Homo sapiens: one gene and its partners. The protein of the gene in region 3 interacts with the protein of the main gene of each other region in a biochemical or structural test. Each region holds a gene or a part of one and is shown on either strand. Other genes may lie near its edges.

Region 1 (3,500 bases), on a different chromosome or scaffold from region 3:
AACTGAATAAACTACATGTACACGCATCAACATATACACCTCAAAAACTTGATACTGAGTTTAAAAAAATCAAGCTATTGAAAGACAGCGTTATACATGTCTGTAAAAATTTAATACAAAAACCAACACCACATATCACTTACAGATACATGTACACATGTATAGTAAAAGTATAAAACAAGGATGTGAAATTTACTTAAGAATCTCAAGACAGTTGTTACTTTGTGTAGAGACGGGTAACAGGACTTGAACAGTTGGGGTTGTTAAAAGTGATTATATAACTGCATCCTTTCCCCCAAGGGATAAAAATGGACATAATTTATATTTCCAGGTGGTGGATAAATAGGCACTTGCTATGTCATTTTCTGGATGTTTTAAAAATTTTACAATTAAAACATATACACTTATTTTAAAAACAAACAAAAGACATATTAGCATATAATGTCCAAGCTGATAATTACCTTGGAAGATTATCTAATATAAACCTCCCTACTTCACTAAAAACAAAATTACAAAAGATATCAGAATAAAAATATGATACAGGCTGGACGCAGTGGCTCATGTCTATAATCCCAGCACTTTGGGACGCCAAGGCAGGAGGATCACTTGAGCCCAGGAGTCAAGACCAGGCTGGGTAATATAGTGAAACTTCATCTCTACAAAAACAAACAAACAAACATTTTTTTAAGAATGTAATAGGATTGGTGTGGTGGCTCATGCCTGTAATCCCAGTGCTTTCAGAGGTTGAGGCAGGCAGATCACCTGAGGTTAGGAGTTTGAAACCAGCATGGCCAACATGGTGAAACCCTGTATCTACTAAAAATACAAAAATTAGCCGGGCGTGGTAGTGCACACCTGTAGTCTCTGCTACTCAGGAGGCTGAGGCAGGAGAATCACTTGAACCCAGGAGGCGGAGGCTGCAGTGAGCTAAGACTGCACCATTGCACACCAGCCTGGGCAACAGGGCGAGACTACATCTCAGGAGGAAAAACAAAAAAAAACCTATATATATATATATATATATATTTATATGTATTATATATATATAATACATATATATAAGATTATATATATATTATATATATAATACATATATATAAGATTATATATATATTATATATATAATACATATATATAAGATTATATATATATTATATATATAATACATATATATAAGATTATATATATATTATATATATAATACATATATATAAGATTATATATATATTATATATATAATACATATATAAGATTATATATATAATATATATAATACATATATATAAGATTATATATATATTATATATATAATACATATATATAAGATAAATACTATTGTAGCAGGGCAATTTTGGACAAATACTAGGTTATCTGAAACAGCACTTTGGGGAATTAGATCTTGACCATTTAAGAGAGAGATTAGCCCCAGTTTCTCAAAATCTGGCACTGACTAGCAATATGGACAATGTGTGCACCGCCCTCGTTCCACCTCCCCTCCTAGGAATGCCATGTCAAATTCAGCACAGGCATAGGCAGTAAAACTGACCCCTAGTTCTGCCTATCACTATTTAAAATTACTTTAAGTGTTGAGGACTGTCCCCACAGCAGATATCTAAAAGTAGGCCTGAAAGAACTAGAAAGTAGTTCATGCATCCAGCAGTTACAAGTGCCTAAAACTGTACATGAAAAAACAAAACAAAGAAATGAACTGAGAGCAAACATTTACTGTTTTCTTATAATCTTCAATCCAGGATTTAAGAAATTATTTAATATCAGTTGAGATACGTGACCAACCCATTCTCCAGCTGAGATCCATCTATTTTTAAATTCACTCCCCCAGCCTTTCATTCAGCCTAAAAGAGGGAATAAGAATGGGAAGGTGGGAAGGACTTATCCCATACTGAGTTAAATAAGACCACAAGATCTTTTCATTTTTACAATATTTGAAATACAGTACACTGAGCAATAAATTTAAAGAAATATGCATGATTTGAAATGCAGAAATCTTGATTTATGTGTATAAAAGACCAAAATTAGCTCAGTTCGTCTAATACACTACACTTAAGTGTTCTTCAATACTACAGTCAACTTTTCAGAAATATTCCCATTCTGTGAAGCAGGATGTATTCCTACCTTGATTACCAAACTTTATCCACGTAACTTCCTATTCTCCCACTCTGTTCTTTAAACATGTTCAACATGTTACAGAGATGGCAAAATGTGTTACAAAAGGGAATGAGAATGAAGCAGCTTAAGTAATTAGGAAAACTTTACACTTCTTAGAAACTGAATTTGAATGATCTTAAACAGCATATTTTCTTTTCTTTTCTTTTCTTTTTTGAGATGAAATCTTGCTTGCCCAGGCTGGAGTGCAATGGTGTGATCTCAGCTCACTGCAACCTCTGCCTCCCAGGTTCAAGCGATTCTCGTGCCTCAGCCTCCCAAGTAACTGGGATTACAGACGTGTGCCACCACGCCTAGCTAATTTTTGTATTTTTAGTAGAGACAGGGTTTCACCATGTTGGCCAGGCTGGTCTCGAACTCCTGACCTCAGGTGATCCGTGTGCCTCGGCCTCCCAAAGTGCTGGGATTACAGGAGTGAGCCAAGGCGCCCAGCCTAAACAGCATATTTTCAATCACCAACACACAACATGACCACTGACTTCAGAAAACTAGGAAAGAAAAATGTTACCCAATTAATCTTTGTGTGAAACAGGATTTATCCATTAGTATACGTATCACATACCATAGATGCACAAAAGATTTTTTCAATTCCCAAAACAAAAACTTAAAATATTTAGCAAAGATAATATAAAAATCCTTATTTATGGCACGCTGTAAGATTATCAATATTGGTGCATATAACCACAGAGGCACAATAGAATTCTTAGGAAAAATGTATTAAGACAATTAACAAGCTGGAAATAACCCATATTTCCCCTTATGACCCATTAGCTTTATATAGAAAACACTGCTGTGCACTTCATCCTTTGCTTTCTAAAGAACAGCATTATGGTTCACATCTGTTAAGAGACAAAAAAGTATTTGTTGGAAGTACGAAAGGAAGAAATTCCTGTACTGTTACATGCAGTGCCAAAGGAATCATCTGAGAAGAAAATAAAGAACATGAGTTTAACATGAGCTTTAGAGAGGGATTACAAGAGTGCAAGAAAGTGACAAAATGTGACATATGTCCATAGTGAATACATGGTGCTTTATTGTTTTCAGTATTTCTATATTTAATTAGGAGGTGGAAAGTTTCAGAATTTATTCTGCATCACAAAGATTATAAAAATATATGAGTTGGGGTGTTGGCTACAGTACACAAAGGCAATTCTAAGACTACTTATTAACAGAAGCTTGAAATGGAAAAGCCATCCCTTCTGATTTCATTACATGAAAAGAACCTGTGTAGAAGTACAGCAATGGTAGCATCTTCATTCAGCCCACAGCTATGTAATTTGTATGCAAGAGTGCTTGTCTTAAATATGAAAAGGAAC
Region 2 (3,500 bases), on a different chromosome or scaffold from region 3:
ATTGTTCCAGTCTTTTTAAGTATCACCTCCTCACACTTAGGAAAGCATTTAGTGAGGTCTAATGGTACAAGTTAGCTTTCCAGCACAGACCTCACCAAAAAGGCTGCCATCAACCCAAAAGTAACAATAAATCAAACTCTTCTAGCCTAGGGGGATCCCTAGCCCCCCTTTTTCAAAAGTTATGCTACTTTTACTAAATTTAAATAATTAGCTTTTGCATTTAGTAAATGCTTTAGCATTTACTAAAGGAATACAGAGACCTAAAGAATGAAAGAACCATTCCTTAAATCCTGAGCAGTCGGCGAAGGGAATTGCAAAGGCTGGCTGTAAATCTTGAATATACGGCTTTATTGCTGCTGCACTGAAGAAAGCTCTCTGAGCAAACAATGACTGAAACGAGGGTGACAAAGATTCCAAAGGGTTCTTTTGGTTTGTAAAACTGAGTGTTCTCTTCTCTATATAGAAGAAAGGAAAAAATAGTGGGAGCAGAGGTTTTTTTTTTTTTTTTTTTTGAGTTTAGACACGAAAATCAGTGCTGACCCAGGCACAGTGGCTCACGCCTCTAATCCCAGCACTTTGGGAGGTGAGGCCAGCAGATCACCTGAGATCAGGAGTTTGTGACCAGCCTGGGCAATATGGGGAAACTCCGTCTCTACTAAAAATACAAAAATTAGGCCAGGTGCAGTCTAATTACAGGCTCATGCCTGTAATCCCAGCACTTTGGGAGGCTGAGGCTCACGCCTGTAATCCCAGCACTTTGGGAGGCTGAGGCTCACGTCTGTAATCCCAGCACTTTGGGAGGCTGAGGCGGCTGGATCATGAGATCAGGAGTTCCAGACCAGCCTAGTCAACATGGTGAAAACCCGTCTCTACTAAAAACACAAAAATTAGCCAGGCATGCTAACATGCACCTGAAATCTCAGTTACTTGGAGGCTGAGGCAGGAGAATCACTTGAACCCGGGAGGCAGAGGTTGTGGTGAGCCGAGATCGTGCCACTGTACTCCAGCATGGGTGAGAGAGCCAGACTCCATCTCAAACACACACACACACACACACACACACACACACACACACACACACACACACACACACAATTAGTCGGGAGTGGTGGTGGGCTCCTGTAATCCCAGCTACTGGGTGCCTGTAATCCCAGCTACTGGGGAGGCTGAGGCAGAAGAACTGCTTTAACCTGGGAGGCGGAGATTGCAGTGAGCCGAAATTGCACACTGCACTCCAGCCTGGGTGACAAGAGCGAAACTCCGTCAAAAAAATAAATAAATAAAAGAGGCCGGGTGCGGTGGCTCACACCTATGATCCCAGCACTTTGGGAGGCCGAGGCGGATGGATCACCTGAGGTCAGGAGTTCAAGGCCAGCCTGACCAACATGGAGAAACCCCATCTCTACTAAAAATACAAAATTAGCTGGGCATGGGGGCGCATGCCTGTAATCCCAGCTACTCGGGAGGCTGAGGCAGGAGAATCGCTTGAACCCAGGAAGCAAAGGTTGCAGTGAGCCGAGATTGCCCCACTGCACTCCAGCCTGGGCAACAAGAGGGAAACTCCATTTAAAAAAAAAAAAAAGAAAAAGAAAAAGAAAGTCAGTGCTAAGTTAAAAAGTTGAGGAATAAAAATGACACACTTATTTATTCCATTAACAGATGTGATTGCCTACTATGGGCCAGATATTGGGTACTTGGCAATAGAGAAAACTCCTGTTCCATAAAAGTTCATAATTGAGGGTGACAGAATTAGGGACTTAGTATAATAAGTGACACAGTGTGACTACTTCTATTATAGTTGTAGGAGACTACACCTATGAAAACAATTTCTGCTGAAATACCCCTCCAGAGAGCTTTCTAACTGGAGCTTTAAAGTTCACCAGGCGGAGCAAAGTTGAGCAAAGGCAGAAATGGGAAGGTATTGCAAGGAAATGGAAAAAGAGGAAAGGACAGGATAAAACCTGAAGACCTGGCCAGGCAAGGCGACTTATGCCTGTAATCCCAGCACTTTGGGAGGCCGAGGCAGGCGGATCTCCTGAGGTCAGGAGTTCGAGACTTGCCATGGCCAACATGGTGAAACCTTATCTCTACAAAAATACAAAAATTAGCTGGGCATGATGGCAGGTGCCCATAATCCCAGCTATTCAGGAGGCTGAGGTGGGAGAATCACTTGAATCCAGGAGGTGGAGGTTACAGTGAGCTGAGATTGTGCCATTGCACTCCAGCCTGGGCAACAGAACGAGACTCCATCTCAAAAACAAACAAACCTGAAAACCTGTGTAGAGGCATACATGCCATGTGTTCAAAACTCTATGATTCAGAGACAAAAATAAAAATAGATAAACTGGATCACATCAAAATTTAAAACTTCTGTGCATCAAAGCTTGCAATCAACAGAGTGAAAAGACAAGTCACAGAATGGGAATAAACATTTGCAAATCACGTATCTGACATATCCAGAAAATACAAACAACTCAACAAAAAAAACCAAACCTGATTAAAAAAAAGACATGGGGCTGGACACTGTGGCTCATGCCTGCAACCCCAGAACTTTGAGAGGCCGAGACAGAAGGAGTGCTTAAGCCCAGGAGTCTAAGACCAGACTGGAAAACACAGTGAGACCCTGTCCCAACAAAATGAAAAAGAAAAAAAAAATTGGCTGGGTGTCATGGTCTGCACCTATAGTCTCAGCAGGCTGAAGCAGCTGAGGCAGGAGAACTGCTTGAGTCTAGAAGGTTGAGACTGTAGTGAGACAGGATTGTACCACTGTACTTCAGACTGGGTAACAGAGAGACCCTGTCTCTTAAAAAAAAAAAAAAAGACATTTCTCCAAAGAAAATATATAAATGGGCAAGAAGCACATGAAAAGATGCTCAACGTCACTAGTAATCAGGGAAACACAAACCAAAACCATAATAACATACACCTCACACTCATTAGGGGGTCTCTCATTGTCAAAACAAAACAAAAAACAAAATAATAGGTGTTGGTGAGGGTATGGAGATTAGTAAGTGCTGGTGAGGATGTGGAGCGATTAAAACCCTTGTGCATTGTTGGTGGTAATGTAAAATGGTGCAGCCACTACAGTAAACAGTATGGTGGGTTCCTCAGAAACTTGAAAATAGAAATATCATTTGATCCAGCAATTCTACTTCTGGGTGTATATTCGAAAGAACTGAAAGCAGCATCTTGAAGAGATATTTATACATCCATGTTCATAGCAGCATTATTCAGAATAGCCAGAAGGTATAAGCAACCCGTATGTCCATCCACAGATGAATGGATAAACAAAATATAGTATATACATACACTGGACCATTATTCAGCCTTAAAAGAAGAAATCCTAGGCCAGGCGTGGTGACTCATGTCTGCAATCCCAGCACTTCGGGAGGCCGATGCAGGCGGGTCACTTAAGGCCAGGAGTTGGAGACCAGCCTGGCCAACATGGTGAAACCCTGTCTCTACCAAAAAATACCCAAATTAGCCGGGTGTAGTGGCTC
Region 3 (3,270 bases):
AAATGGAAAAGAGGGATGAGGAAGGGGCCTTACTGGCCCAACTAGAAACAGAAACTAAGAACCCATGACTGTATTCTCTCCCTTGGACACCCCTGTGTTTATTGCAACAGATAGGGGGGAAAGAGACCCAGAAGGTGAGTTGCTGAAGTATTTGTTAAAGATTTGAAGAACTAGCTGGGCACAGTGGGTCACGCCTGTAATCCCAGCACTTTGGGAGGCTGAGGCAGGCGGATCACGAGGTCAGGAGTTTGAGACAAGCCTGGCCAACATGGTGAAACCCTGTCTCTACTAAAAATAGAAAAACTAGCCAGGCGCAGTGGCGGGCGCTTGTAATCCCAGGTACTCCGGAGACTGAGGCAGGAGAATTGCTTGAACCTGGCAGGCGGAGGTTACAGTGAGCTGAGATCGCACCACTGCACTCCAGCCTGGGTAACAGGGCAAGACTCCCTAAGATTTGAAGAACTTGCAAGGGTAATTTTCAGTATGTCATGTTTTGTTCTAGTTGTAGCCATTAGAACCCCACCTCAAAATAGGATTGATTTATTTTTATTTATATTTCTTTTGAGATAGTCTTGCTCTGGTTGAGGCTGGAGTGCAGTGGCGCCATCTTGGCTCACTGCAGCTTCCCTAGCTCAAGCCATCCTCCCACCTCAGCCTCCTGAGTAGCTGGGGAATACAGGTGCATTCCACTGTGACTGCTGATTTTTCTTTAACTTTTTTGTAGAGGTGGGGTCTCGCTATGTTGCTTAGGTTTGTCTTGGACTCATGGGCTCAAGTGATCCTCCCACCTCAGCCTCCCAGAGTGCTGGGATTACAGGTGTGAGTCACTGGGCCCAGCCGAGAAATAAATTTGAACAGAGCATTCTGTAAATGGAACTTATTTGTGGCACCCTTGTTCTGTGGTATGCTAGTTTGAAAAATTCTAGCCTACAACAGTTGATATGCAGGCCCTGCTGCTCTCTGCCCGTTTTTTGAGACGGAGTCTCACTCTCACCCAGGTTGGAGTGCAGTGGCACGATCTTGGCTACTGCAACCTCTGTCTCCCAGGTTCAAGCGATTCTCCTGCCTCAGCCTCCCTAGTAGCTGAGATTACAGGTGAGTGCCACCATGCCCGGCTAATTTTTGTATCTTTGGTAAAGACGGGGTTTCGCCATGTTGGCCAGGCTGGTCTGGGACTCCTGACCTCAGGTGATCCACCGCGCCTGGCCTGTTCTGTGACTTTCGACAAAGCAAACAATTTTTGGTTTCTTGGAATTTCATTTCTCCCCATTTAAAAGAGAACGTCCCCCTCCATCGCTTTCATGCAAGACATGGACCTACCCTTAGCGTGGAAATTGAGCTTGGAAGTAAGGTAGTGTGTAAAGACTAGATTGATTAAAATTCTGGCCTTGATCACATCCTCTTACGATTCTTCTGGGTTGGGGGAGGGTATGCTGTTTTAATTCTACCAGAATGAGAAGAATTTTTGCTGCTGGAATCAACATAAAACTTGGATGCAGCGTGCGGCAGACTTTGGAAAGATCTTTCACTATAGCTTGCTTGGATAAAACTGGTTTTCCCATATTCCTATCCCTGCATTTCTTTCATCTGCCGTGAGATTGTCCTTGTTAGTCAAGTCACAGCATAGCTGATGGGGTAATAGTAGGAGAACTTAAGCAGGCTTCCTGGCGTAGAGCAGTTGGGCCTTTCTGACAAGCCCATTTTCAGTTTCTGTGGGTCAATCTCTGCTTTTGGAAGTGTTTTTCAAGTGTGCCTGTGATTTTAGAGCAGATTTTGTGAGCAGAGGGTCTTCAGTTAGTGGACATCAGTTAGTGGACTTTCTTCAGTAGTGTTTTAGGGCTGGCATGTAGTTGAGTGATGGCAGCCCTTGGCGAGCTTTTACTTGGGAGGATCATTGTTGCCATGTCCCAGTAGCCACGAGATGAGATAATTGCAGGCCCTTTGCTCTTTCTGCCTTCCATCATTCTGTCAGATTTGTTTGGAAAAATTTGTCTGGGGCTGTAGGACATTGTTTCTTGGAAATATGTAACGGTACTTCATTGGTGGGAGCAGCGTTCTTAGTTCAGTGCCTGGACAGCGTGTTCCTTAGATATTCTAATAATTTGTAGAGCTTCAGGATTTGAGACCCTATGATTTTATTTCAGCCTTATTATGTAAGAAAGGGTTGGCTGTAGTCTCTCTTGTCGAGACTTGATCTCTAGGCTATGTAAAATCTGATCATCCTGGACAGCTCTCCAGCCAACAGGGAGCACGCCAGTGGCCTGACACTGCCATGTATTGCCTTGTTCCATCTCTTTGCATGCCTTTGCTTTTTCTCCTAGGCAGGCGTAGTCTTACTTAGGTGTATTTTTTGAAAAGTATGTCAAGCATTGTGCACAGAATAAGTACCCATCTGAATGCTGGGTTGGTTGGTTTGGAGGACTGTTTATTTATGAATGTCATCTTGTGTTACTCAGTTTTTCTGTTATTGGTAAAGTGAAGAATGTTTTTGTTGTTGTTGTTATTTTATAGTGTGGGGTGATCAGCCCCAGATTTGACGTGCAACTCAAAGACCTGGAAAAATGGCAGAATAATCTGCTTCCATCCCGCCAGTTTGGGTAAGTTGGCCTTTCCTTAATTAAAAGAAGTTAATGCTAAGAATTTCTGTGGTGCAGTTTGACTTAAGGGTTTTTTTCTTTTTTTCTGTTTAAAACAAAGCAGTGGTAATTTGTCTACTCTTAACCATTTTGACCTAATAGCTCAAGTGTTATCCATATTTCTTTTCTCTCTCTTTAAAAAGAGACAGGGTTGGCCAGGCACAGTGGCTCACGCCTGTGATCCTAGCATTTTGGGAGGCTGAGGCAGGCGGATCACCTGAGGTTGGGAGTTCGAGACCACCCTGACCAACATGGAGAACCCCGTGTCTACCTAAAATACAAAATTAGCCAGGCCTGGTGGCACACACCTGTGATCCCAGCTACTTGAGAGGCTGAGGCAGGAAAATAGCTTGAACCCGGGAGAGAGGTTGCGGTGAGCTGAGATTGTGCCATTGCACTCCAGCCTGGGCAACGAGTGAAACTCTGTCTCGAGAAAAAAGAGAGAGAGACAGGGTTTCACTTTGTTGCCCAGGCTGGAGTGCAGTGGCTGTTCACAGGTGCGGTCATAACACGCTACAGCCTTGGCTTCTTGGCCTCGAGCAGTCCTCCCCGCTCAGCCTCTTGTGGATTTGGGAATACAGGCGCCTGCCACCGTGCCTGGCTATTTGCCACATTTCATGTGTTGAGCTTCAGG

The links. Proteins that work in one complex are often made in the same cells at the same time.
Region 1: the proteins of RPS15A (region 3) and UBE3A form a complex in vitro, tested with the Homo sapiens proteins (one large-scale study listed by BioGRID).
Region 2: the proteins of RPS15A (region 3) and RIOK1 are reported together in a solved structure, tested with the Homo sapiens proteins (one study listed by BioGRID).

Annotation. Positions count from the first base shown.
Region 1 is NC_000015.10:25,429,025-25,432,524, forward strand, and holds part of UBE3A (ubiquitin-protein ligase E3A), read right to left. Parts: intron 1-3,500. UniProt on the Homo sapiens protein: E3 ubiquitin-protein ligase which accepts ubiquitin from an E2 ubiquitin-conjugating enzyme in the form of a thioester and transfers it to its substrates.
Region 2 is NC_000006.12:7,406,808-7,410,307, reverse strand, and holds part of RIOK1 (serine/threonine-protein kinase RIO1), read right to left. Parts: intron 1-3,500. UniProt on the Homo sapiens protein: Involved in the final steps of cytoplasmic maturation of the 40S ribosomal subunit. Involved in processing of 18S-E pre-rRNA to the mature 18S rRNA. Required for the recycling of NOB1 and PNO1 from the late 40S precursor.
Region 3 is NC_000016.10:18,784,065-18,787,334, reverse strand, and holds part of RPS15A (small ribosomal subunit protein uS8), read left to right. Parts: intron 1-2,511; coding exon 2,512-2,597; intron 2,598-3,270.